4 linked regions of the Homo sapiens genome follow. The protein of the gene in region 1 purifies or fractionates together with the protein of each later gene. This does not show direct contact. Each region holds a gene or a part of one and is shown on either strand. Other genes may lie near its edges. The genes, in order: C2CD2, ARHGAP10, SEC14L1 and ARHGAP26.

What was found.
Region 2: the proteins of C2CD2 (region 1) and ARHGAP10 purify together in Homo sapiens (affinity purification with mass spectrometry; 3 studies listed by BioGRID and IntAct, with this or other methods). This does not show direct contact.
Region 3: the proteins of C2CD2 (region 1) and SEC14L1 purify together in Homo sapiens (affinity purification with mass spectrometry; 3 studies listed by BioGRID and IntAct, with this or other methods). This does not show direct contact.
Region 4: the proteins of C2CD2 (region 1) and ARHGAP26 purify together in Homo sapiens (affinity purification with mass spectrometry; 3 studies listed by BioGRID and IntAct, with this or other methods). This does not show direct contact.

What each region holds. Positions count from the first base shown.
Region 1 is NC_000021.9:41,951,003-41,958,566, reverse strand, and holds the start of C2CD2 (C2 domain-containing protein 2), read left to right. Parts: upstream 1-4,548; 5' UTR 4,549-4,918; coding exon 4,919-5,197; intron 5,198-5,416; exon of another isoform or gene 5,417-6,513; coding exon of another isoform or gene 6,514-6,519; intron 6,520-7,564.
Region 2 is NC_000004.12:147,727,592-147,735,092, reverse strand, and holds the start of ARHGAP10 (rho GTPase-activating protein 10), read right to left. Parts: upstream 3,006-7,501; 5' UTR 2,792-3,005; coding exon 2,638-2,791; intron 1-2,637. UniProt on the Homo sapiens protein: GTPase-activating protein that catalyzes the conversion of active GTP-bound Rho GTPases to their inactive GDP-bound form, thus suppressing various Rho GTPase-mediated cellular processes. Also converts Cdc42 to an inactive GDP-bound state.
Region 3 is NC_000017.11:77,136,992-77,143,979, forward strand, and holds the start of SEC14L1 (SEC14-like protein 1), read left to right. Parts: upstream 1-3,977; 5' UTR 3,978-4,116; intron 4,117-4,364; exon of another isoform or gene 4,365-4,448; intron 4,449-5,654; 5' UTR 5,655-5,759; intron 5,760-6,575; 5' UTR 6,576-6,605; coding exon 6,606-6,668; intron 6,669-6,988.
Region 4 is NC_000005.10:142,899,368-142,906,390, reverse strand, and holds part of ARHGAP26 (rho GTPase-activating protein 26), read right to left. Parts: intron 4,457-7,023; coding exon 4,352-4,456; intron 2,852-4,351; coding exon 2,722-2,851; intron 1-2,721. UniProt on the Homo sapiens protein: GTPase-activating protein for RHOA and CDC42. Facilitates mitochondrial quality control by promoting Parkin-mediated recruitment of autophagosomes to damaged mitochondria.

The sequences.
Region 1 (7,564 bases):
GTCTTCACTCTCAGAGACTGTTCACGCGGCATCTGAGGCTCACCTGGGGAGTTAGTGCAGTTACTCAGCATTGCTGCTTTCCTCCTGGGGAAGGCATCATGAACAGCATCTCCATAAGTCATGCAAATGATTACTAGAAGAACTCACGGCCCCTCTTCGGGGGGAAAGCCCTGTCTGGCGCCGGGCCAGGCTCTGGCCACGGGTGACCTTTGGTTGGGTCCGCCGGCTCCGGTATTGACCCTGTGAGCAGTACAGGAAATAGACTCGAAGCACATTCCAGCCTCCAGGTGGTGGAAATGACTAAGCCAGTGAGATGGAGCCAAGGAGATTGGGTCAAATGTCTCCACAGCCTCTCTGGTCTCCAGAAATCTCGCTTCCCACAGCAGCTGCCGAGGGCACTGAGCCAAGTGCTAAAAGCATTTTGCTAAGAGGGAATTCTCGAAACGTCTGCCCCCAAGTGCTGCTGGGGGGAAGCTGTGTATTTCCACTTGCTAGAGGTCCCTGGTAGGGCCTGTGAAGTGACCATCACAGCTCCCCGGGGCCCCCAAGGTGCTGGTCTCACAATATTGGGGCACAACTTGATAATTCAAGCAATACTAATAATGTGAACTGCTTCAGGGTGAAGGGGAAACTTTTCACTCAGAGACAAACTATAAACATTTTGGACGCTCTTCTTTTCCCTGCTTCTAGAAATTTAAGAATGACATTGAAAACTTAACAAAAGTCCCACATTTTTCTAAAAGAATTTTTTAAAACCCAAAAGTATAACAAAGTATAACTGTTTATAGACGTGCGATACATGACATACATGACACTAGACATATCTATTAATTTCTAAAAATGTCACAGCATCCCAGAACCTCCTGGGCTTGGGAGAGGAAGACGTTCAAAGACTTACAGCTTTGAGGCAGGGATGAGGCACTGCACCCAAGACTGGGTGACTCAGCAGAGATCATCCAACAGACAATTCTCATCTCCACCACCAGCATTTAGAAATGTTTTAAAGTGAAAAATAGAACAGTGGCTCTTGACTGTGGCCTCAAACCCAGCTACTGTAAAGCATTATGAAGAATTTAGACACTTGGCTTCCTCCTTCCCGCCTGGAGGCCTGCCATGCTAGCGAAGGCAGCCCTGGTTCAAGGTTTCTGGTGGACCCAGCAGATGGATGGGAAGCGGGCTTAGCTTGACCTAAACAGCTGGGAGCTGGGAGCTCAAGGTGAGCATGCAGGAGGGGCCACAGCCACAGTGCTTTCCCTTTATGAGCAGCTAAAAATAGCAAACAACCACTGCAGAGTGACAGAGACCCATTTGAAGGTTTTGGTGGAGACAGAAGCCCTCCCCGGGCAGAGCTGCAGTCTCACTCCTTGGGTGGAAGGGAGATGTGGTGGAGAGAGAGGTGCCGGGAGCAGGAAATGTCACTGGGGGTGAGGCAGAATCCTGTGCTCTGGGAGAACCCAGCCCTCCAGTGTCTTCTGCAGTGGGAGAAGGGGACTGGGAGTTGGTGGATGTGTAGGGCTGGGAGCTTGTGTAAAGGGAGCCTGCTCTTTTTCATAGATTTATAAGATGTTTCTGTTCCGATTTCGTGTTTTGGCCAACTGCATTGTCCTGCAAGCCTGCATCATTCCTTATTTTCCCTCGATTTGCTTCTACACGTAAGTAATCCAATATCTACATGTTGACATTATCTTTGAAAACACTTAACGGGGCTAGGCACAGTGGCTCACACCTGTAATCCCAGCACTTTGGGAGGCTGAGGTGGGCAGATCACCTGAGGTCAGGAGTTCAAGACCAGCCTAGCCAACATGGTGAAACCCCGTCTCCACTAAAAATACAAAAATTAGCTGGCGTGGTGGCAGGCGCCTGTAGTCCCAGTTACTCGGGAGGCTGAGGCAGGAGAATTGCTTGAACCTGGAAGGCGGAGGTTGCAGTGAGCCGAGATTGTGCCACTGCACTCCAGTCTAGGTGACAAAGTGAGACTCTGCCTCAAAATACAGAAAGAAATTAAAGAAAGAAAGAAAAGAAAATTTGTCACATGGAAGTGTGACAAATCCCAAACTAGGGGTGCTGGTTAGTTTACAGTTTGTTACAAGCCTCTAAATAAGTAAGTGGGATGGGCCAGCACACCTGAGACCTGAAGGAATGAGACGGGTTCCACCGGTCACACAGGACAGGCTCTCGTCACTGCCCACACAGCCGCAGGCGGCCTGTGTGCACACATGGCACGGGGAACACTGGGCCCTCGGATTCCTCACCCCGGTTATTCTGGCAAGGGGACCAGCAGGACTCGAATTATCTGACTGCATAGGTCTAGCTACAGGTCAGAACATAATTAGACTTTTCTGCCAAATAAGAAGGGATTTCTTTTGTTTCTGCCTAAAATAACACAGAATAGAAGAAAAGAAGAGCAGTTCCCCCCACCCTTAAGAGGCTGCGGCAGACTGGAGCGCTCGTGTGTAACACATGGGTCACTTGCAGGATGCTGATGGTCTCATTCTTAATTTTTTTTTTTTTTTTTGAGACGGAGTCTCGCTCTGTCGCCCAGGCTGGAGTGCAGTGGCGCGATCTCGGCTCACTGCAAGCTCCGCCTCCCGGGTTCACTCCATTTTCCTGCCTCAGCCTCCCGAGTAGCTGGGACTATAGGCGACCGCCATCACGCCCGGCTGAGTTTTGTGTGTGTGTGTGTTTTTAATAGAGACGGGGTTTCACCATGTTAGCCAGGATGGATAGTCTCATTCTTATTTCCACTTTCTGATAACAGACCTGGCTCGCAAGGGTCCATCCCCAGCTCACCTGGGCAATCCCCGTCTAATTTCACCTCCCTGACAGCGTCCTATCCTGTTCCCCACAAAGGCTCTCCGTCCAGCTGCTGTGCCATTCCTTCCTCTTTCCTGAAGAAAATCCGGGCCCACGGATTCAGGGCCAGAATCCCCTCTGATGGACCATCCACTGGCCCCGCAGCAGACTCCTGGCTAGGGAAGAGAAGGCCAAATGCTCAGTCTATCTAATTCCTTTCAAGGTCAAGTCCCCTTAATACAGCTGCAGAAAATAACAGGGGAATCACTTTTTTATGGTTTAGGCCTGTTTTAGGCCCCGGAGAATCTCAGGCTAGTATGTTTCTATGGCACTCCCTAAGGACCGCGTCCACTCTGCAAGAGGAGGGCACAGGGGCATGTCCCACACACCACACCACACACACACACACCATACCACATGCACCACACTGACACACCACCCACACACCACGCCACATGCACCGCACTCACACATTACACATACACACACTCCACATCCATGTACCACACATACACACACCACCGTGTTCACCACACACACAAACCACACCACATGCAACGCACTTACACAATACATATACACACAGCACCACACCACACCCATGTGCCACACACACACGCTCACATCACCCTGTGCACCACACACACACGCACCACACTGACACACCACATACATACACCACACCACATCACACATACACACCACACACACCACATGCACCACACACACACACCACATGCTGTGCACTTACACATCACACGTACACACACCCATGCACCACACCGACACCACACACGCACCACACCACATGCACCACGCTTACACATCACACACACACACCACACACACACACCACACACACTGCACTTATACATCACACATACACACCCATGCACCACCATACACACTCGCACCATCCTGTGCACCACACACCACACACATACACCACATGCTGTGCACTTACACATCACACGTACACACACCCATGCACCACACCGACACACCACACACGCACCACACCACATGCACCACGCTTACACATCACACACACCACATGCACCACACTGGCACGCAACACACATACCACACCACATGCACCACGCTTACACACACACCACACCCATGCACCACACATACACACTCACACCATCCTGTGCACCACACACCACACCCACAACACATCACACCACATGCGCCACACACATCACACCACATGCACCCCCGCCCCACCCGCACACTGAATGAATGACACAGCCACACAGAAGGCAGGGCCTGGGCCTGGTGCTGAGCCCCTCCTTGCCTCTGAGAAGCACGCCCCCTAAGGCAGGCCCAGCCCCTGGCTCCAGGGGCAGCCACGGATTTCCAGGGACTTTCCGAGGACTGAGCCTGGATCCTGTCTCGCTGGCGAGCAAATGGCAGTCCTCGAAATCACCCTGACTGCGCGCTGTGCACACGCACACTCACACATGTGCACACACACGCACTTGTGCAAGCGCGCACACGAGCCAAGCCAAGCAGCCGCACAGCAGCCGCCGGGGTTGGGCTGATGAATCCGGAGGCCCGGGTCACCTCGCGGCCCGCGGGCAGGCGCCGGAGGGGCGGGCGACGCGCGCACGTGGCGGGGCCGGGAAGGCCGGGCCTTTAGGGGGGCGGGGGCACGCCGCGTTGGGAGCAGGGGGGAGGACTGCGGCCCCCGCAGGCCCGGCCGCGCCCCCTCCCTCGGGCACCGCCCCCGCCCCGCCCCGCCCCGCGGCCAGAGCCTCCTCCGGCCACCGCTGGGCCGCGGGCGGGACGCCCGGGGCGGCGCGCGCAGGAGGAAGCGCGGCCCGCAGCGGCCCAGGAACTTCCCAGACGCCGAGTCGGGAGCGCGGGCCGCGGGGTCCGCTCGCGCCCCTGTTCCGCAGGTGTGCGGGGCTTGCGCCCAGCCCGGGCCGCGGCCGCCGCGCGTTTCCTCCCCGCTTGCCCGCCCAGAGGCCCCCGGCCACGCTCCTCGCCGGGCTCCGACCCCGCCGCGCCCCCTCCACGCCCCCAGCGCGCTGTGGCCGCAGCCAGCGCGTGTCCTGAGTCCGCCGTTCCGGCCCGGGGCTGCCGGGGAAGTTGGGGCGAGGCGGGCCGGGGATGCGCCATGGCCATGGCCCGGCTGGGCTCGTGGCTCGGGGAGGCGCAGTGGCTCGCGCTGGTGTCGCTCTTCGTCGCGGCCCTGGCCACGGTAGGCCTGTACCTGGCGCAGTGGGCGCTGGCCAGGGCGCGACCCCAGCCCCAGCGGCGGGCGGTGGAGCCTGGAGAGGGGCCGCGCCCGGGGTCCGACGCGCTGCTCTCCTGGATCCTGACGCTGGGCAGCTGGAGGAGCCAGTGGCAGGCGGCCTGGGTGACCGCCCTGAACGAGGAGGCCGAGAGGAAAGGGGTGAGTTTCCGGGACTGCGGGCCGGGGGGCGGCAGATGCCGGGGCGGGCGGTCCGGGCCGAGGTCTTTCCTGGAGGCGTCGCTGCAGCCCCTGACCCAGGCTAAGGGAGTCCTCCCCCCAGCGCAGACCATCCTCGAGAGTTAGGAGAGAGACGGGGGAGCGAGGCCCCTTGACGGAGAGACAAGACAAAGTGATTGATTTTATTCTCCAAACGGCAGGTGCTCCAGGCCCTGGGCTCCGCGAGGGACAGGCTGGCAGTTGGAGGGACCGTCAGAAGTGCTCATCCGCGCCAGCCAGTACCTGCCTTGCCTGGAGTCCCGGGGCGAATTCCCGTGCCCGATCGGACACTTACTGAGCTTGCACATGATACATGAATAGCTGTGACCCCAATGTGCTTCCGCCTCTCATAGAGCTGAATTTCACCAAGAATTTATCTCCAAAGACTTGCATTTCTTGGCATATAAAAATAGTGACCGTTTGCTGAGGGCCAGCCGCTGGGCAGACATCCTACCGAGGCTTTCGGTGCGTCTGCCATCTCTGAATCCTCACAACTCCCGGGACAGGGGTGTTATCACTGTTTTACAGATGAGGAAACCAAGGCCCGGAGAGGGCAAGCAGCCTGCCCAGTGCCACACAGCTCGTGGGCGGCAGAGCTGGCATGTGAATCCAGCTGCCCTGGCCTGCAAGCTAAGGGCCTCGTGTCTTACCTCTGCTGCCTCACAGTCCTGTGGGTGTTTCTGTAGTCGCTGATTACTCGTTGACTTATTTTTGCTTTTAAGACATCTTAGTATAACGACAAGCTCCTGGCATGTACTATTCTTAGGCATTTCACAGGAGAAGTTGGAGCCTGGGTGGGTTTGGGGAGGCACCCCTAGTCTTGGCCGCTGCTCCGCCCTTCCAGGCCACAGTTTCCTGCACATGCCTGTGCAGCTCAGTGGTCATTCGCTGTGGAAATAGCAGAATTGCTCATTTTCAATGTCCGGCCCCATCAACCTTCAAAATATTCCATGGCGGGCCCTGTGCCTGGTCCTTGTGCATGGCCTTGGAAGACATGGCCATGGAATTAAAAAACAAAAAAGCTTTGACTATCAGTTAGCAGCCATCCAACAAATCAAGAGACCTTGTTTTGAACTCTTGAAAAAGAACATAAATGACTGTACTTTTTGGAGGAAAAAGGCTTCAGGGTCAGTTGACTGACTTTTGTCCTGGTGCCCAGAATCTGTGCCTCAGCTGTCCAGAGCTGGAGAGTGTCTCAGGGAAACCAGCTGTCTCTTGTGGGAGCCCTCCACCCCTGTTGGCCTCACATCCAGGAGCAAATGCAGGTATTTCCCCAGGAAGCTGCCATCACTGACCCCTGACTGACCTGGAATCAAGGCTTCTGAGGCTGAGTCCCCTCCAGGCTGGTGGCTTGATTGGGCACCAGTCTCATCTGTGTCCTTTGTAGGAGGCAGGCAAGTGTTGGGTGAATGACCTTTAAGTTCAGCTTCTAACTCTGGAGTTTCAGGCTTAGAGGCAGTGACCCTACCTCCTGTATATTTGGGATGGTTCGTTTCCTGACATCTATGGATTGGCTTCAGAAAATATGATCCTCTTGGATATGATCCTTCCATATTCCCATCTGACTGAAGTGTTGAGAGGCAGAGAAGAGGATGTCCCTGGCATCTGTCTTAGGCTGGTCAAGTCAATCTGAGAACACTGAAAGAAATATTTGAAAGTTTTGGATGAAAACTTTTTACTTGAGTCTTTGTGTGGGAGCAGGGAGGGGTTGCGTTCAGGGAGAGGAGAGAGGGTCTCACCTTGTTTGCGCCTTCTCTGTTCTCTCTCTGCTGTTGGCCACACACTGCAGTCTCAGACACCTGTCTCTCCTGACCTCCTGCCTGGAAGAGGCAACAGTGTCCCGGATTCATGCTCAAAGCAACCCAGGGCCATCTCTGGCATTTTTGCATGGACATAGTCCATTAGTTCTGTGATGTCAGTTTTTGGTATTGCTTACTTTCCTGGGGACGGGGGTGGGGGAACACAGCCCTGATGCCTGGGAATGTCATTTGATTTGCATTCAAATGGAAGGTTTTGCAGGCAGATAGGATCTGGGTGACTGGGCTCCCTGTGAGTGACGGTCACACACCCTCCCGGCATCCTGAGCCGTCGCTGCCGTGTCAGTGATGGCATTGTGGGTGAGCAGGTAGTGGTGTTTGCATTCCTGGCCGCCCCGAGTCCAGCGATTGTCACACACATCCCAGCATCCTGGGCCATCGCTGTTGTGACAGTGATGGCGGTGTGGGAGAGCAGGGGCTGCTGTGTCCATTCGTGGCTGCCCTCCCCCACCTCCATTCCCACTAATCCCGGATTAGGGCTGACACTCCAAGC
Region 2 (7,501 bases), on another chromosome or scaffold:
GTCGCATAGGCCTCAAAACTCTAAATATTTATGGAAGACTTCAAAGCATCAAGCCATCAAAATTACATATTGAAATCTTCCAAGAATGTAATGCAAACAGGAGACACCGTGCAGGGCAATTAAAAATAGAAATCACTTAAATACACACTTCTCGAAATGCTCAAAAGGTCATTTTTGTAAAATAAAATATAAAATATCTGGAAATATAAATAATCTGACCTAGTGGGTTTTATTCTTTCTGTAGATCCTCCACCCAATGTCATCCCTTGACTCTCTGATGTTATACAAAAGCTCAACTGGTTAGATGAACCATTTACCTAGACTGCAGTTTCAAATAACCTCATCAAGCCATTTTCAAATGCTGCAGAACCTTATTAGTTCCCCTAAGAGGTAGACAGGGGAAGTTGGACGCAAAAGAATAAGACCTGCTCAATTTTCCTATAGCCACGCCCTAACCAGTGAAGAAGAATTAAATTCAGGTCCCCTGACTTTAGTCCAAGGCTCTTAGTCTTTGATAGGAACTAGAAGTAAACTTTATGGAGCAAGCGGGAAAAGGCATGTGAGCTACAGCTGTGTTCCTGTCACCTTCTGGGAAAGAATTTAAACATAAATTCTTAATGAACATAACGAGAAAAAAAGACACTTCCCAATTACTCTCAAAGCATGATTACAAGTTATGTTTCTTATGCTAAAGGACGAGAATCAAAATGAGTAAGATACTAATTCACAAATTCAAGAAAGTCTACAGTCTGGAGGAAAGCTGACATCTGGCCCCCCAGATGCACTGGCTGCTGCTGGAACCTAACGCATGTGTCCTGATGGCAGGAAAGCTAATATGCTGTCACAGAAATAGCTTTCTACCAGTGGCCAAACTGGCTTTGCCCTCTGCCTCTCTCCACACCTCTCTAGCTCCAGAGGGAACTACTACAACCAATGAGAGAGAAGGTACATTCTCCCGGCCACTGACTCTGGTTAACATCAAGTTACAGAAAGAGTCCTCAGTCCTCATTCTCTCGTGTTCACTCTGCACCCCCGCTCCCAACTCCTCCTTTCTATGCTCACTCCTCCATATGTATAGGCGCCCCCCTACTTCCCACCCAACACACATACCAGATGCCAAGGGCCTGGAGAGCCCTCAACCAAATAAGCCCACTTGTCACATGTCCCAGAGTCCCATTTCTGATTCAAGCAGCAGAGACTTAAAAACAAAACAAAAAAACCCTAAGTGAGTCCCAGTCCTGATTTTGCAACACCAAAGAGGTCAGAGAACCAAAAGGAACCTTGGAGATCATCCAGAGAAGTTGAGTGACTTGCCTCCAAAATTACAGGGATGGCTCACTAAATTCTTCCCACAGAAATGTACTTCAACTTATTCATTAAATGCATATTTACTGTACCAGGCACCATGCTGGGTGCCCGAGACAGTATAATCAATATGTTTTAATCGCCCTTACTGAAAAATGGGGCGGGGCGCGGTCGGGAGAACAGTGAGATGGGGGATTTTCCCCAGAGGTGGTATCTACAAACAAATGTACAAGGGACGAATACCTAAGGCTGAGAATTACTGAACTGAGAATCTAGGTGAGTGATGAAGGCCCTAAGAACCCAGCCCCTCAAGGCTGGATACTGCCCAAGTCCCTGTCTGCTGTATGGACAGGTCTTTTAAAGGGGGAAAGGGGACATTCACCGCCATCCTCCGAAGGGGTTATGGATCCAAGGGATGGTCAGGCTGCCCAGCTCCTCACTGGGGCTAATTCCGCCCCATTTTCCAGTAGCATCACTAACTCAGTATTTCTGCATGAATTTTGGCCCCTTCTCTCCTAGAAAGACTCTCCTCAACTACACTAAAATACAGTTATCTCTCCTGTATCTCGTGTCTTCTTCCGAGTTTAAGAGACAGAAGTTCAGGGGAGGAAGGCACCAAGCCTAACCGGGGTGGAATTCCCTATTTGCAAGCAGTGCCCGCCTAGGCTAGAGGGCAGGCTGTCCGCTCACCCTTCCAAACCCCAATCTTTGAACCCTCCTCAGCACGGCAGGGGAGGAATGTGCGGAAGCAGCATAAAGCCAGGTGGACTTTCTGGTTTGGCACGTGAAGGACCTGGAACAGGACTGTCGGGGAAGATCAGACAATGAGAGGGAAAAGGTGAAGCTTAAGGGGACTCTGGAAAACTCAACACTCCCGCAGGGTTTCAAAGAATCCCCAAGAAATTTCTTTTGAGAAGTCACAAAACAAAACTAGGCAAACAGATGCCTCGGTTTTGTAAGAGATTGTGAGTAGCTTTAGGCAGCAATGAAACCTGACTCCGGGCCAGGAGTGCCTAGGGTCGGTCCAGCGGAGCGCGCATTCAGCGAGGGGTGTTCGGCCGGGGCCAGGCGGGGCCCAGGCGGGGCCCGCTGGCAGCTGGTTCCCGCCGCCGCAGAGCCGCAGGGGCGGGAATGGGGACTCGCCGCGCTGCCTCGAGGAGGAATGATTCCAGGGACCCCCCGGGGTTCCGAGAGAGCTGGGCTGGTCCGGAATGAATTCCCCGTTCCTCTGGCTGCTGGCCCCGGACACAAGACCCTCCGTCTCCTGCCGAGAGAGGCTCCCCCAGCCGCCTCGCCACGCCGCAGCCCGTCCGCGCCCGCGTCCCCGCTTACTTTTCGTCGCAGCGATGAGGTTCTTCCCGTCCTTAATGAGCTCTTTGATGAACTTGTTGGTCCTCTCGAGTTCCGCTTCGTGAGCGCGGATCCTCTCCCGGAACCACGGGCTGTCGAGGTAGCAGTCGCTGAACTCCAGGGGCTGCAGCCCCATGACGGCAGCGGTCGCTGCGCGGTGCGCACGGCCGCGCGCTCCTGCCCGAGCCGAGCTCCGAGGCCGCTGCCAGGTGCGGCGCCGCGCGTTCAGGGAGCACAGAGGAGCTAGCAGGCCCGGGCGCGCGGCGAGCGCGGCACGGACATGTCCCGTAGAGCCGAGTCCTGCGGCGCGGAGGAGCTGCCACCGAGACCAGCGCTAGCTGCGGCGCCCCAATCCCGGCAGCCCCCGCCGAGCTCTGAGCGCCCGCGGCCCCGCCCCGCCCGGCCCCCGCGCGGCAGACACTCCCCGAGGCGCCACCCGGCCGGGCCCGCGCTCCCGCTCGTCCCCTTCTCTTTCCTCCGCCTTCCTTCTTCCTCCCTTCCCTTCCCTGGACGCCTCTTCCTTCTCTTCCCCACGCGCAGCTGCCCCTCCTCTTCCTTCCGAGGCGTCCTGGGGCTAGAATTTCGCCCCGCGGCTCCCCTCCACCCTGGGCGCTCTCCCCTCCCCTTTGCTTGGGCTCCCGGGGCCGGGGTGACTCACAGTCGGCTCCCCGCTGCACGGAACCCGACCGGGACCGAGAAGGAGCGTCTTAATTGCAGTCGTTAGTCCCCGCAGGCGGGCGACATAACTCTGAAGTGGCTGCCTTGCAGGAGATGATTAACTCATTTATCTCATTTATCCTGGGACGCCCCCAACCCCGAGCTGGGAACGAACTCGCACAGGGGGCTCTTTTCCTTATCCCGGTTCCTTTCCCAGTTTAAAGTGAGATGCGTGGTAAATCTCCGCTTGAGATCGAAGCCTTACAATGGCAAGAGCGTTTTCTTGGTGGCCCAGCAGCTCCTATTACACTTCTCTGCGTATCCGCACTAAATAACTTAGTTGAAGAGAGAGGGCTGGCTAAACCACAGAAAAGTTGTTTCTGTTGTGTTCAGCACATTAAATTTGCTGGGGTAGGTGAAGACGATCTTTATTATTCTAAAAATAACTACCGGAAAACATGCCAGGTAACGTGTGGTTTTCACCGCGTGGGGGTGACGATCAATGAGAATTTATGTCAGTGCCCTCAAAAAGCCTATTTTGTGTGTTATGAAACAACTCCAGTGTGTCCCAAAAAAAGTTAGGCATTTTAAAGTATTAAAATGTATACCTTAGGCCGGACGTGGTGGCTCACGCCTGTAATCCCAACACTTTGGGAGACGGAGGCGGGTAGATCACCTGAGGTCAGGAGTTGGAGACCAGCTGGCTAACATGGTGAAACCCCGTCTCTACTTAAAATACAAAAAGTACCCGGGTGCGGTGGCACGTGCCTGTAGTCCCAGCTGAGGCAGGAGAATCGCTTGAACCCAGGAGGCGGAGGTTGCAGTGAGTCGTGATGGTGCCACTGCACTCCAGCCTGGGCGACAGAGCGAGACAATGTCTCAAAAAAAAAAAAAAGTATTTCTTAAAAAAAAACACTAATAGTTCATTAGAGTAACGTTTCATAATCGCAATTTATTAAGCAATTATTATGTGCCGGGCACCCACTAGGAACTCCATACATCTACAAACTCGCGATATAGACTTACATGATATGATGGTAATATTAACGAGAAACTTCAAAGTAATTCCTCAAGACGTTCAGACTCTCAGCTGGGTAATTAAGAATCTGTTTGGACAGCATGTTGTAGGAGGGTAACCCTCCCGAACAAGTTAAATAAGCCTCCTACTCAATAAGCCCTTTTGTTACAAAACAGCACCAGGAGTGCCTAACCCACAGATAAACATTATTACTCTAATGTCCATCCTCCAGAGAGTTCAAAGTGTTTTACAAATAACTTTTAGGCGGTGAAAGCTTCAGTTCCTACTAAAACCAGCAGGAGACTGGAGTCTACAGAAAAGAGAATAAAAGAGGCAAATAAAGGGGAAGAAAGACAAGAAGAGAGGGGGTGTAAACAAAAATGAGGGCCTAGCGAAACAGCCAAGCACTGACCACACTCAATCCTCAGAGCAGAAACCCAAACCTTTTCTCATAGAGGGGCTGCTGAGACTTCTTCAATATTGAACATGGAGGTTACCGTGTGACCCAGCAAGTCCACGCTTAGATATATACCCAAAAGAAATGAAAATATATGTCCACGCAAATATTTACACACAAATATTCATAGCAGCATTATTCGTAATAGCCAAAAAGTAGAATCAACCAAAATGTCCTTTGTCAGCTGTGTAATGGATGCACAAAATGTTTGTCCATAAAATGAAATATTAATCTACAATAAAAAGGAATGAAGTACTGACACGTGCTACGGCACAATAACGGTGAAAACGTTATACTAAGTAAAAGAACCTAGCTGCAAAAGGCCAATACTATCTACTTATATTAAATGTCCAAAACAGGTAAATCTATAGAGGCAGAAAGATTAGTGGTTGCTAGAGACTGGGGGATAGAGTGGAGGGTATATGTAGTCAGGAGTTTATTTTCAGGGTGATGAAAATTATTAATATTTTTATTTTTCATAGAGATAGGGTCTCACTATGTTGCCCAGGCTTTTCTCAAACTCCTTAGTTCAAATGATGCTCCCACCTTGGTCTCCCAAATTGCTGGAGTTATGGGAGTGAGCCGCCGAGCCTGGCCGAAAACAATTTAAATTTACATTTTGGTAATGGTTGCACAATTCTGAATATACTCAAAATCACTTAATTGTATGTGATAAATGGGTGGATTTCTTTTGGTCTGTGAAATATATCTCAATAAAAAATTTTTTTTAAGATGAACTACTCTAGAACTGCTTCTCCTTTACCACATTAGACTTCAAGCCGTAAAAACTCTGGTTTATTCAGTGTGCCCAGTTCTTTAGATATTTGGAGAAAAAAAAAAGTTGTTTAAAACAATGTCAAAACATCATAAAAAATATTACTTATCACTTCACACACATGTACACCCAGTGTTAAAGAGCTAGTGAATATGAATCTTAATTCATTACCAAATAGGTCCACAATAATTACCATGAGTGGAGGGGCCTGATTAATTTTGTTTTATTCAGCTATGCCTATGCAGTGTCTGGTATACAAGTGATCAGTAAATGTGGAATGAATAAGTATAACTAACTGAAGAGAAATCTCTGTACAGTGGACAGTGGAAAGATAGATATTTAGTAGTTCCAGCTCCAGCTTTACTACTTAACAGTTGTGCAACCTTAGCAAAGGTAATTTTCTGTAAACCTCAGACTTACCATCAGTGAAATGGAGATGATGACATTGCAGCTGCAGGTTGCTTGAGAAGATTTAATGAAATTGTGTTTGTAAAGTGCCTGCTGAAAATTATGATAATAATGAGACTCAAGGAAGAAGGAAGTGTGGAGGATGGGCTGAAGAGAGGGATGAGGGAGAGGAGGAGACAGATTACATTCCATCAATGTGGGAAAGATTTTCGGGGCAGGAGAGCCCTTAAATCATGGTTTTAAACCATGTAAGACAGAACTCAAGAAAAGTGGCCACAAAAGCAGATGCTACTGAGTTTCCAGGTTTCATCTTAATTAATCAATTATTCCCACAAATATTTACTGATCATTTATATGTATTAGGCACCGTATTAGGTGCTCATGATGCAGCAGCACACAAAACAGTCCTCACCGTGCTTTTGGTCTCTGGGGGAGACTGGCCTCATCCCAAAAAAAAAGAAAAAGAAAAATCACACACATATATATCCAATTGAAAATTGAAGCACCATGCAGTTAAAGTGAAGGGTGTGTGAGAGATTATAATTGGAACACCTGATGGAGATTGGGGCTGGGTCAAGGAAGGCCTCATTGAGGAAGTGATATGAAAATGATAATTTAATCAATGACCAGGAATATCAGTAGGAGTTAACTGTTAAATAGGGGTAGGAACAGAGTAGTACAGACATGGGACCAGCTTGTGCAGGCCCCTGAGATGGCACACTCAAGAGATGAACAGGTCGGTGGCTGAAGCCCAGTGAGAGAGACTGGCTCACAACTATGCCAGGTGGTGGAGGATAGGCAGGGTCAGATGGTGCAGAGCCTCTAAGTCTTATTTAGGATTTGGGACTGTATCCCAACACTGTTGGGAGCCTTTAAAGAGTTTTATGCATGTAGTAAAATGATCCGGATTGTGTTTTCTCTCTAGCTGCTGTGTGGAGAATGGAAATCCAGACAGAAGGTGGTTGGAGTTGTCTGGGCAAGAAATGGAATAGCTCAATCCTCCAAGGTGACCCTCCAAGGAAACAGCGAGAAATAGACAGAAATGAAGTATATTTTAGAAGGAGATTCTGGGACTTGACAATAGCCTGGATATTGGAAATGAGGAAGAAGGGGTCAGCGGTGGCCCCCAGGCTTGTGGCATGGTAAGTTAGGTGGATGGATATGCCACTTACTGAAAGGATAACATGAGGTAAGAAGCTGTCATGGCAGTGTTGGTGATGACTGGGTTGGAAGGATGCGTTTCAGTATAAACTCATGAAATGTTTGAGATGCCTGGGAGACATTCAAGTACTTAAGTCATGTAGGCACTGACACCCAAATGGCATTTTTATGCTTTACTCAGTGCTTGGATTAGTTAGGGATTTGAATCAATGCAAGCTGGTCAAGTTTCAGTCTACATGAAATAGAGGTTAACAGATAGGAAACCTTCCCTTGATGTAGGTTCTGCTGCATACCATACTGTAGTTTTTGTGTTGTGATGACTCACAAAGTACCTACCTGTAAAGTTAAATATGGGTCTACTGAATCCTTG
Region 3 (6,988 bases), on another chromosome or scaffold:
CTCTGCCTCCCAGGTTCAAGCAATTCTCCTGCCTCAGCCTCCAGAGTAGCTGGGATTATAGGCATGTGCCACCATGCCTGGTTAATTTTGTATTTTTAGTAGAGACGGGGTTTCTCCATATTGGTCAGGTTGGTCTTAAACTCCCAACCTCAGGGGATCCACCTGCCTTGGCCTCCCAAAGTGCTGGGATTACAAGCGTGAGCCACCACGCTCAGCCACAAGAAAGCAGTAATTTCTTAGTATCATTATATGTTCAAATAGTGCTTAAGAGGTTCCACAGGCTGTTCAGGAAGCATGGCGCTGGCATCTGCTTAGCTTCTGGTGAAGCCTCAGGGAGCTTTTAGTCTTGGTGGAAGGAGAGAAGGGGGAACAGGCAGGTCACATGGTGAAAGCAGGCAGAAGCTCCAGAGAGTAGGGGGAGGTGCCACCCATTTTTAAGTGAGAAGATCTCATGTGAACTTAGAGAGAGCTCACTTATGGCCAAGGGGATGGCCCAAGCCATTCATGAGGGATCTGATGACCCAAACGCCTCCCACCAGGCCAGACCTCCAACACTGTGGATTACAATTCAACATGAGATTTGAGTTCAGACTATCTCAGGGCCTACATTCCTGATCATGAGGAATAAGACCACCTGCATCCACACAGCTTAGCCATCAGGACTGAGACCTAAGATCTCTGTGTCAACATGACTTACTATTTGATCCAGGAGATTCTTGTTCAGGAATATTAGACTGTAAACCAATACGTGCTTTCACTGTTTGCCTCAACAAATTCCTGAAAAAGCATTTATTGTAACAAAAGATTGCTTATCTTTACATATAACCCCCTTCTCTGGATAACAGTATAACCACCCAAGGGGTTCACCTTCCCTGCTGCCTAGAGAGAGCTGATTCATCAGGACAGGAGGATTGCAATAGAGTCATTCACACAGAGCTGGCTGTGCAGGAGATTGGAGTTTTATTATTACTCAAATCAGTCTCCCTGAACATTCAGGGAGCAGAGTTTTTAAAGACAACTTGGTGGGTCGGGGGAGGCCAGTGAGCCAGGAGTGCTGATTGGTCAGGGAGGAAATCATAGGGAGTCGGAGCTGTCTTCTTGTGCTGAGTCAGTTCCTGGGCGGGGGCCACAAGATCAGATGAGCCTGTTTGTTGATCTGGGTGGTGCCAGCTGAGCCATCAAGGGGAGGATCTGCAAAATGTCTCAAGCACTGATCTTAGGAGCAGTTTAGGGAGGGTCAGAATCTTGTAGCCTCCAGCTGCATGACTCCTAAACCATAATTTCTAATTTGTGGCTAATGTTAGTCCTACAAAGGCAATCTAGTCCCCAGGCAAGTAGGAGGTTGGTGGGCAGGGTGCTGTGGTTCACTCCTGTAATACCACCACTCTGGGAGGCTGAGGCAGGCAGATCACAAGGTCAGGAGTTTGAGACCGGCCTGACCAACATGGTGAAAGCCCGTCTCTACTAAAAATAAAAAAATTAGCTGGGCACTCGCCTGTAATCCCAGCTACTCGGGAGGCTGAGGCAGGAGGGCAGGAGAATCACTTGAACCCAGGAGGTGGAGGTTGCAGTGAGCCAAGATCGTGCCACTGCACTCCAGCCTGGGCAACAGAGTAAGACTCCATCTCAAAACAAACAAACAAACAAAAAAACAAAAAAAACCTAAGGAAAAAAATAGCAAAAAGTAGCCAGGCGTGGTGGCACATGCCTGTAGTCACAGCTACTCAGAAGGCTGAGGTGGGAGGTTCACTTGAGGCCAGGTGATGATGCTGCAGACGGCTATGATTATGCCACTGCCCTCAAGCCTGGGGAACAGAGTGAGACTGTTTCAAGAAAAAAAAAATGGAAATAAAGTTTTTTGTGATTGGTTGATGTCTCAAGTCTGTTTTTTCTTCAAAATGTTTAACTGAAGTATAATATACATATAAAAGCTTGCAAATCATAAATGAATGTATGGCTCAACAAATTTCCCAATCTCTTTTAATCTATAGATTGACCATTCCCCTCTTTTTTTCCTTTGGAATTTGATAAAGAATATATTTGTCTTGTACCGTTTCCCACAGTCTGTACTTTGCCAATTGTTTTTCATGGTGTCATTTAGCATGTTCCTCTATTCTGTATTTCCTGTAAACTGGTGGTTGCATCTAGAAGTTCAGCAGGTCAGGTGAATTTTTTTTTTTTTTTTTTTTTTTGACACGGAGTCTTGCTGGAGTCCAGCCCAGGCTGGAGTGCAGGGCAGGTGGCGTGATCTTGCCTCACTGCAACCTCTGCCCAGGTTCAAGTGATTCTCCTGCCTCAGCCTCCCAAGTAGCTGGGATTACAGGCATCTGGCACCACACCCGGCTACTTTTTGTATTTTTAGTGGAGACGAGGTCTCACCGTGTTGACCAGGATGGTCTCAAACTCCTGACCTCAGGTGATCCACCCACCTAGGTCTCCCAGACTGTTGGGATTACAGGCGTGAGCCACCGCAACGGCGTTAAAGCGTCTTTTGAAGGTGGATGTGATTTTTTTTTTTTTTTTTGGGACGGAGTCTCGCTCTGTCGACCAGGCTGGGGTGCAGTGGCGCGATCTCGGCTCACTGCAAGCTCTGCCTCCAGGGTTCACGCCATTCTCCTGCCTCAGACTCCCAAGTAGCTGGGACTACAGGCGCCCGCCACCACGCCCGGCTAATCTGTTGTATTTTTAGTAGAGACAGGGATTTCACCGTGTTAGCCAGGATGGTCTCGATCTCCTGACCTCGTGATCCGCCCACCTCGGCCTCCCAAAGTGCTGAGATTACAGGCGTGAGCCACCGCGCCCGGCCGGTGGATGTGATTTCTACAAACAAGCAAAAGCCAGTCAGACTGAATGTAGTGAATAATGTAGGTGACCCAGCTGGAAGATGATGGTTTGACGTGGAACACAAGGGGTGATGAGGCCATGAATGATTTGCTTGTGTGTCTGGTAAACTGGCTTTGATGGAAATTCCTAAACAGGTCCAAAAACGTTCTGTCCAATGGCAGCATGAAATGTACAGCCACTCAGGGTGACTAATGTGAACGGAACAACAGTGACTTTGACAGTGAAATTGCATGTTGGTTATAAAACCAGCTTTGCTGTGTGGGTGGGCATGCGAGGTGCCCCTTTCTAGTCATGAGCTCCTCTTAAGGACCCCAAAATGTCTCAGTGGTACCGGATTGAAAATTGGGGCTGGACGGTGCTCTCCTGCTGAAATTCGGGAGCTACTTAGCAGCCCCACCTTGGCACCCTCGTTTCCGAGGGGCAGGCCCTGGGCGCGCGTCTCAGTTTCAAGCCCGCGGCCCGACACTAGAGCCGTCTGGATGTGTTGACAAGGATGCCGCTGGGCTCCACCCGGGCTCACCCGGGCCCTCCCGAGCCCTGGGCCGCGCAGCACCGGCGTCCGCCTCCTCCCCATTACTCGGCGAGAATGCGGTCGGGGCACTGGCGCGAGCAGCCTGGTGCTCCTGAACAGTCAACAAGAAATGAGGAAGCACGGGGGCAGCCGCCAGGGCGACCAGAGGCAGGCCTCAGAGCAGCAGCCATACGGGAGGGCCCCGGTGGTTTTGACCTCCCGCAAACTTCCCTTTTCCCGCTCAGCCGAACCCCTCCCCTGCACGCCGGCAGCCCCTTGGGGCTTCACTCCGCCTCCGCCCGCTACTCGCGAAGCCCAGCCCGGCCCCGCCCCCAACAAGTGACGCAAAACTGGGAGGGGCCACGAGGACCTCGGGCACATCCAGCAGTGCGACGGGGCCGGCGCCTTCTCCGAGCTCCTCCCACGCTCGCGGGTCGGAGCTCGCGCCTGCGCAGTTCGGGCCCCGGGTGTCCTCCCCCCTCCCCTTTCTTAGCAACCATCGCCCGCTCCCGCCCCCGCTCCCTCGGCCGCGGCCGCGCACGCGCGCCCCTCCCGGCGCCCGGCCCCGCCCACCCCGTCACCCGTAACAACCACAAGTGCCGTCGCCGCGCCCCTTCCCCCTCCCGCCTCCCCGGCCCCCTCCCCGGAACCGGCGGTCGAGCTACGGTCGCGGAGCAGTGGAACCGAGACTGCCCCGCGGAGCCGCCGGTATGAGCGCCCCTCGCCACCCCGTGTCCCAGGCCCGGCCTTTCTGACAAGAGGTAGGCGCGTCGTCGCGGCGGGTCCGAGTGCGCCCTCGCCCCGGTCCCGGTCTCCGTGGAGTCCGGCGCCTCTCGGGCGGGCCCCCCGGAACTCCCGGCCGCCCGCTTGCTGAGCCTGTCCCTCCCCAGCCCCGGCTGCCATCGGCCCGGCACCCGAAACGGGCCGTGCCCCCGCCCCCCTGCTCGCCCTCCGCCCCCCTGCTCGCCCCTCGCCGCCCCTCGCCCCCCTCCCCCGCCCCCACCCCCACCTCGCCAGGCTTCCAGTTCCCGGGAGCCGCTTTTTGCTGAGAGCGGAGTTTCGGGTCCGGAGCCAGTGCCCGCCCCTCTCTCCCGTCGGTCGGGGCTTTGGCCCCGTGGGGCTCAGCCGCGCGGGACCCCTGCTGAGCAGCCCCGGGCGCCGGCCGCCCCTCGAGCCTGCTCGGGATGCGTTCAGTGGGTCTGGCCTTTGGCTCCTGTTTAAACAGCGATTGTCATGCAATGGAGGCCGTCCGGCTCCTGGATGCCACTTGGTCGTTGTCACTCCGGATGCCCGCGTAGGGCGTTTATCTGGACCAGAGCATCGGCAGCTGAGACCTGGCTGTGGTTCACAAGCTCGTGAATTAGCAGGTTCTTAAGTGAGTGTAGCCAGTTCTGCCAGGCGGTGGAATCCTGAATGGATGTTACCGTTTCTTAAACGAGCATTACGCTTTTTTGCTTCTTCCCCCAACTCTTGTTTGTACCCGGTTATCGTCCTCATATCTGGGAGAGTACCCTAAAATTAATATTCCCAATTAAATTTTTAAAAGATGATTGGATTCCCACTGTGCACCAACACTGTAAGGTTTGCAAAAGAAAAAGAACGTGGTCCCAGCACATCAGGATGTGTCAGTCGCATAATCAAGATGAATATTAGAAAAGCTTCAAGTTGAGTTTGGAGAACTTGGGAGTTTGGCTCTCATTCTCATGGTTTTAGAGGTGGAAGTCTTTCAAGATCATCTCCCCGAAAACCTCATTTTACAGAGATGAAACTGAGTCCTAGGGAAGTCAAATGGCTTACTCGTGGTCACCCAGAGTCATTCCTTAGCCGTTTTCACACTGTCAGATGGCGATGTTTTCCACCATGACCTCTCCTCTGAGAGGTATGCCAGACATACCAGAGAAAGTTCCAAACCTGTTTAAACCTTAGTACTATAGATGGGAATTCTATACCAGGCGCCGTGACTCATGACTATAATCCTAGCACTTTGGGAGGCTGAAGTGGGCAGATCCCTTGAGCCCAGGAGTTTGAGACCAGCCTGGGCAACATGGGGAAACCTTCTACAAAAAATATATATGGTGGTGCGTGCCTGTGGTCCCAGCTACTTGGGAGGCTGAGGCAGGAGGATCACTTGAGCTTAGAAGGTGGAGGCTGCAGTGAGTGGAGATTGTGCCACTGTGTTCCACCTTGGGCAACAGAGAGACACCCTGTCTCAAAAAAAAAAAAAAAAAAAAAGGAATCTTGGAAGTTTCTGAAATAAAATACATCTTGGTAATTTGTCTCTCTCTTTTTTTTTTAACAGCTAGACTTCGGGCTCCTTGAGGATATTCAGTTTTGTATGTTTGAATATCCTCTCACCATGTTCAGCATAAAGTACCATTCTTAATGATTATCCTCAACAAGACAGGTAGGCTCATTCGATTTTTCTTTCTCACTTTAAATAGGGGAGACAGAGGACTGGCAAGTCCAGGTGTGTTTTTAGAGCAATCCGTGTAGGCTGGCGCTAGAGAATGATTATGCACCCATAAGGAGGGCTCCTTGACTGTGAATTAGGTGTGAACATTTAACCGATTACTTACGGATATTAGCTATCTGAGGCTAGAGATTTCAGTGGAGCCTGTTTAGCCAGAATACTTGGCATCTCTGCCACTCGAAGACAGGTCGCCAAAGCTGTAGTGTACACAGTTAGAAAATAGGAATTGACACGTTTCCTTTGAAGCTAGCTTTTGAGGAGTATTCCATAGTTTGAGATACAGTAGTATTTTTTTCCAGTTTTATTTTTGTTTTCCCAGAGCTAATATCTTAACACGAGATCATTTTTATTTGGCTTCTAGTAGAAGTTGTTTAAGAGAAAATGATCCAAGCATTAATTATATTGGTTATTAGAATAATAGAATCATAACAGTTCATTGCTGGAAAGGACTCAGGTCAGGTCATGTAATGAATGCAGAGTCCCAGTAAGCCAATGAGAGGATTGGACCCCTCTCACACCAGTACTGTTTGCCTCATTGCATTGGGGCTTTGTCTGCTTTTTCTTATTGTTTAATTACCTCCCCCTGCCCTCATGTATTTAAATATCATCTTTTCATTTTTGTGTGCATAGAATTATGACCTATTGTGGTCTCTTTCTGTCGTTAGAGTGTGGTATGATGTGTCAGTGCAGACTTACTAATAATTTGTTTCTGCATTGTGGTTACTTATCACATATATTTATGTTTTGCAGGTGTGAGAGGGTTGCTGTTGTATTGCAATCATGGTGCAGAAATACCAGTCCCCAGTGAGGGTGTACAAATACCCCTTTGAATTAATTATGGCTGTAAGTACTTGACATTTCAATTTACTCTTTGGCTTCTTATTTATAAAGTACAGTGTTAGAATTTGATGATCTATAGATTTATTGTTCGTCTCCATGGCATCACTTGAACTTACTCTGTTTTTATGCTTATGAACCGTATCTAGAGTGTGTAAAATGTTTTTAAAATACAAGCCTCTGAAAATAAAAATCTGCTTATTAAAAAAAATGCACCTCAGGGTAATGTATGAATTGAAGTTAATTCTCCCTTTGAACACACAGAAGTGGGATTCTAAGCACTTCTTCCTCGGGGTTGTGCTCTTTTTTTCCTTCGTTAGAGTAGC
Region 4 (7,023 bases), on another chromosome or scaffold:
TAGTAAAGATCAGCTCAGGCAAGGATTGTCAATGGATGCTAAATCTATGGAGGTAAAGTGTGATAAGGAGAAGGATATTTACATGATCTTAAGGTGTTACCTTCAGATTGCTAATTAGTTACAAGGGGAAAATAGTGACTGTATAGTGGAGAAACCAGACAATACCTTGACTGGGTGATCAAAATTTACATCACCACTGAGGGGCAGGTCGACACCACATGTGTCCAGATGTGGCCCCAGAGAAGAACTCTTATGTAGGATTTGACCAGAGATGCATAATCCAAATCTAATCATGAAGAAACACCAGATAAACCCATGCTGAAGAAAACTGTATAAAGGAACTGGACTGTGTTGTTCAAAAATGTCAATGTCATGAAAGACAAAGAAAAGCTGGAGAACTGTTCCAGATTAAAGGAGACTAAAGTCATGACAACTAAATGCAGTATGAGGTTCTGTACTGGAGAACAACAAAATGCTTTAGAAGGCCATTATTGATACAACTGGCAAAACTGGAATACGGACTGTAGTTCAGATTAAATATTGCACCAATGTTAAATTTGATATTAGGTTGGTGCAAGAGTTCAATTGCGATTTTAGCCATTACTTTTAATGGCAAGAGTTCAATTGCGATTTTAGCTATTACTTTTAATGGCAAAAACCATAATTACTCTTGCACCAACCTAACAGATGTGTTTACATAAAAAGAATATCTTTTATTCTTAGAAAATACTCACTACTGAAGAAGCATGGTATATGCAACCATATTCTCAAATGACTCAGAAAAAAGTGTGTATGTGTGTGTATGCAAGTTGTACTCACGTGAATACTCACACACCCACACAGAGAGAGAAGGAATGATATCATTGTGGCTAAATGTTAAAAATTGATGCACTGGGTAAAGGGTTTATGGTTGTTCCTTACACCATTGTTGCGACTTTTCTGTATGTCTGAAATTATTTCAAAATAACAAGTTACAAAAAATTTAAAATTAAAAAAAAAGTGCTGTATCCCCATCATGTGCTCTGGACTGTGTTAGGGAACAAAAAAGTGTCCTCATGATAATCAACACACTAATGTTGAAAGAGCATGTGAAGTGTCTGAATAAAAGTGTGTGACATGAGAGTGCAAAAAAACAACATTGATTTTATATATGTAAGTGAATGATATATTAACAAATTAAGTATTATAGGTGGACTTTGAACTATATTTTTAGAGTCCTAAAAATTTATATTTTCAAGTAGACCTAAAACCTTTTGCAGGGATCTTCTCACTGGGCAAAGAGGGGATCACTTTGTATTCAGGCATATACAAAACACACAGCTGAAGTAGCTACATTTCTTATAAACCTCAACAGGCTCATCTCTGTAAGAATAAGGAATGTAATCCTCATCACAGCCAATACTCCAACACCACTACTGCCCCAGTTACCAGGAAACTTAAGTCCAAACAAATTTTTGAGTAATTACTAAATAGAATAATTAGTGAAACCAAGTATTTCTATTCTATCCCATCGGAAAGCTATTAGGAGTGAAGACATCTGCCTAACTCTACATGAAGAGCAGGACATGAAAGAACACAAAACCTGCAAAAATCTGAAAAGACCAATGTTCTCTACCAAAGGACTAGGAGAAGAATTACCCACTAAAGAAAAAAACATTCACTTTCTTTCGTTCCTAGCATTGCATACACGAATTAAGTCTGAATGTGCTATCCTAAACGGCACGGCCCCATCACAGAGCCTTTCCCCAGCCATAAGGCATGAACTTGTGAGTCATCACTAAAATGTCCATGTTAGCAGCACCTGGCATTCCTTTCCTAGACATCACTGGCAGAACAATGAGTATTCTTGGCTCTTTTTTTTTTTTCTTTTAAGAGACAGGGTCTTGCTCTGTCACCCAGGCTGGAGTACAGTGGTGGCAATCTCAGCTCACTGCAGCCTCCACCTCCTGAGCTCTTATAAACCTCAACAGGCTCACTCCGGTAAGCAATCCTCCCACCTCAGCCTCCCAAGTAGCTGGGCCCACAGGTGCACACCACCACACCTGGCTACTTTTTGTATTTTTGTAGAGACAGGGTTTCACTATGTTGCCCAGGCTGGTCTTGAACTCCTGAGCTCAAGCAATCCACCGACCTCAGCCTCCAAAAGTGCTGGGATTACAGACGTGAGCCACCGCATGCAGCCTTCTTCTTGGCTCTTGAAGTGAGCCTTTGTTCCTACTTTTCATAAAATTCAAGTGTTGGAATGAAATGAGTTGAGGAGAAGAGGAAAAAGGCCTAAGTCATGATTGTTTGGGCCTTGCTGAAACAATGTCAAATGAAAACAGAATCACCAAGTATTAAGTCTACCAAAGGATACACTGCTGATAGATAACAGGGGCCTAGCATGTAAGACCTTTCCAAGGCTGCTATGCTCAGGGTATGGTACATAAAGCTGGACTAGGGGTACAGGAACCCCAAGAGTAGAGTAACATTAGAGAGAGAAGAGCAACCACAGAGCCTTAAAGAATTGCAGGTTCCCAAAGGAATTCCCATTCATAAAGAAAAACAAAGGTAGACAAGATTCTGTGGACATCATCTTTCTCTTTGGAAAGGTGAACTATAAAATTGTTCTTGTTATCCAAGCATGTATCTACAGTAAGGTAGGCACTGCTGAATACATCCTCCACCTTCTAGGTAAGAGGCCTGAGTACATCCCAAGCTGTTGCTAGTCAAAGCACTCACGTTTCTCCTGCACGTAGAGGTATCCCTCCATGGTGTAGGGACTGATGGTCTTGTGCTCAAGGGGATTCTCCTTCATCTTTTTCATCAGTGATTCCACTTCTGATCTAGTGCCTTCAAAGCGATTTCTTGTCTAGGATGAAAATAATTTTATTCAAATCAAAGAAACAAAGTATCTGTTTTAACAATCCAGATCAACCTAATAGAATCCTTAGATCTAAAATGAGATAAAGGACATTCAACCTTCCAGGAACTGGCCAAATACTCCCTTATGACAAGTATACTTTGGCCTTAAAGTCCTATACCAGAATGACTCTCAAACTCTAGTGACTATCAAAATCACCTAGGGATCTTATAGAAAATGCAAATGCCCAGCCCTCACTCCTACAGATCAATTCAGCACCTCTGGATGCCAAAAAGTGTGTTTTACGATAAGCCTCCCAGGTGATTCTGATTCAGATGCTCTAGGGGCCTGTATGACTTAAGGACCTAGGCGTTCATTTCTCCAGCTGCCATGAATGTTGCTTGCTGATGGCTCACAGATGAGTCCCTCCTTAAAAGGGGAGTTCCTTCACTCAAGGTCAGCCTGCACCCAATGACTAGACAAGGCTAGAGGAAAGGCAGAAGGGGGTTGAAAGCCTGGCCCCCTTGCTTGTATTCAGGGCGACTTTGAAGGATCATCCCAGCTCCAGAGCCTCCCCTGCACTGAGACCTCTGCTGCATCTGCATCACAGCTCTATTTCCCCCTCTGCGAGTCCAGGTGCCCTCACTCTGTCACAGGTGTTTTCACCAGCATTGCCCCCACCTCCAGTAAGCCCACTGCATGTCAATCTCGATTTCAGAGCCTGCATTCTGAGAAACCTGGCCTAAGGGGAAGCCATGCTTTGTGAAACCTTTTCCAAGATTCTGCAACTTCCTGTTCTCTGAGACAACACTGACTACTATGTAACCTCCAGGCTTCTAAAACCCATGCAGTACAACCCACATGGACACAAGATCACCTAGAGACAAAGAAAATAAGAAGAATAACATGGTCCAATCCCACAGTGAAGAAGGGGGCTCAAGCCCCAGTGACTGCTAACCAAAAAGCCCTACGCAGGATTCTGTGCACCAAAAGGTCCTGTGTTTAAACCTTGGGAATGCTGACCACACTGGGAGCGAAGCACGGACTTGGATTTCCTGCCAGCCTTCCTAAGAGTTGGACAAGAGAACATCCTTTGAGCTGGAGGCCAGCATGTGTCCCCAGCCCCCATTCCCAGAACACACACTCCACACGGTCTCATGTAGTCAGGCAGCTAGATGCATAGAATGGAGGCTGGGTTGGGCTGGGATTTCCACCGCCAAAGGAAATCCTGACTCCAATGCTACAGACGCTACAAATTTGAAACATAACCAGCAGCAGCACTTCCGAGAACATAAATAGGGCTTTGAAATAATGGAGAAGAGGATGATGGTCTAACTCAGAACCACCAAGCACTCTAGAAACGCCTGCCCCTAGTTTCCCTCTGAACCCAAGCAAGACCCACCCTCCTCACCTACATTCCAAGCCACCTGGATGGTTTCTAGGGCAATCAGGCCCATATTTTGTTTTTCCTTAACCAGATAAAAGAAGCCTGTCCCTATGCCCACTCACGTTCTGTATGCTAATGGTTAACTGTGTCTTGAAGTCCCCGAAATCCTTGGCCAGTTCGTAACCATGGTGATAGAAAGTGAAGAGTCCTTGCAGGAAGGCCAGCAGCTGTAATGAAGGAAGAAAGGCAAAGGTCACATAACCAGGTTGAAAAGAGGTATTATGTAGCTGTATCTGAGCTCCCAACACTGGCTTGAAAGTCTAAAATAAAGAATAATAATGGCTGACATTTAAAGAGCACCAATTGTGTGCCAGGCACTATGCCCTTCCATGCCCTGGGTGAGTACTCACAACATCCCATGACCTAAGCACTACTGTTATCCCCATTTTAATAATGAGGAAGCAGGTTCAGAGAGGTTAAGAAACTTGCCCCAAAACACACAGTAAGTGGCAGCCAGAACTTGAAACCAGGTCTCCTTGGCATCAACACCCATGCCCTTGCCCTGTGGGCCTCACCACCTGCTGAGAACATCATTTCCTCAGAAACCAAAGACCAGGGTTCTGACTCAGTTTCCCTCTAGTACATTTGTAGTATCAGGTTATTACACAGAAGAGGAAGGCAGAAAAGGAAGTGGGGTGTCCTGAGTCTACAGTCTAACAGGCAAAGTCAAATCAAAGAAAATCATCCAACTGAAGTGTGTTTCCGTGCTTTCCCCAAACTACTCAAAAGTAAACACTATGGATTCCTTTATTAAAATATTTCCATATTCCCACATTTTCACTTATGGTGGTTTCCCTAAATTCTCAATTAAATCCCTCAGGCTAAAAGGTAAGCCCGTTTCATTGTTTAGTCTTGTCTTTAGTGAATGGTAAAAACATCTGTTCACCACAATGCTCACCACACGGCTTCATATACTTAAAAACTATTAATGTCCCCTCCCTGAGCCCCTACCAGCCTTCATTTATCCAAACTAAACAAACAGCATTCCTGTGGTCTTTCCTCTCGGAGCTTACATCCAAACCTCACTGTTGTTATGCTTTCCTGGCCCCTTCTCAAGTTCTACACATCTTCCCTCAGTTCTAAACTTCAACCTGAAGAAAGGATTATAATAAAAGCCCGAACGAGATTTAGGAAAGACCAGTGCCTCACCTCTATCACAAAGCACAGCTCCATGGTATTTGGGGACTATCCCATTAACTTCGGCTTCTGAAGGCTGACCCACATTTTCTGAGGGGTCCACTCTGACCTCCCTGACCTGCCATACCACCTTATTCCAAGACACATTTGCTTTATTTTACATTGTGGTCTTCAGATTTTCAGTCCCTAAATGATTTTTTTTTAACCTGTTAAACATTACTTATTATGTAAAAAAAAAATTTACTTTACTTACTAAACATAATCCCATCCCACTTATTTTCACCTAACTAACTCTCCTTTTCTGAGAGGCAGCTATAATAAGTGACGGTAAAGGAATCTCATCCCGCCCCCCCTCCCCCTACTCTCCCACCTTGTTTGCAGCAGGAATAGTAAGCACAAAAGTATATAGCACTGGACCTAAACTCAGAGGGCAGGCCAGCCCAGTTTAATCAAAGATCTGGGCCCTGTGAAGATAAAACCCAGATTATGACAATATGGCCCTTAACTTCCCATTGCCACTGTCCCCGGCCCATCTATCCCCTTAGATTCTCATGGGTGGTGGGAGAGTAGGCATTGCTGGGTCCTCTGGCTATAAAACTATCCAGTGGCACCATATACAGACCCCTAACATAAATCCGTGAATGAGTGGTAAGCCCCATGGAGTCACTAGAGACTGATAATGAATGTTTTTCTTCAAAGACGGCCGAAGGCTTTGGGCTTATTCTATACAAAATACTTTTCTGAGAGGAAGACCCATACCTTTCCTTTTAGATGGCTCCAATAACAGAGGAGAGGAGGCTCCTCTGCCAAACCGAGTCCCAGCATTCACAGTGAAAACTGTTTTGCCTCTTCTTAACTCTGCTCTCCCTGCTATCTGCAAATGCCCTGCCCCATCGCCTTTCCAAGGCATGACACTACCCCTGACTTGAGAATAACGCAGAAGATAAGCAGTTAATTCCAAGGTCATTCCTCCTATTAACTATGATTTATCCTTCACTCATAGTAAACAGAGCCTCTCTTGCTCGGGGTAATTAAATATTCTCAAACAGCTCACTAAGATGCCACCTGGGCATACCCGCAAGTGCTCCCCAAAGGCAGGGAGTTACTAATATTTATTTTGTTTTTCCTCCTTTAGTCTCATGCCTTGATTGTCCATTTTTTTATGGGAAATGACTCCTTAACATATTGCTATTTTTGGCCCACTTCCCCCTTGCTTCTCTCCTCCCAGCACCTTTTCTCTCCCCCACCCCCAACACTATATGAACCTTTGAAGTATTACAAAGTGGGAAATGAAAGTCCACTCCTCAGGGGGCAGGATGAAGCCCACGGGACTCCAGAGATGGGGGAGCTGTCTGCTTCAAAGAAATGCTTCTACCCAAACACTAGGAGGAAGAGCTTGCTGCAGTCCCACCTGGTTATCAAATAAGAGGGGTCAGCTGTCCACGGGGCAACCACAACATCACAGCCTGACATAGGAAAGATCTTTCCCGCCTCCCTGTGCCTCCTTCTCTATCCTTGTTATCCTAAAAGAATAACCATAAGCAAAACCTATTCCTACTTCCTAGCTGACAACATAATTTATTTTTTTCATTTTAAA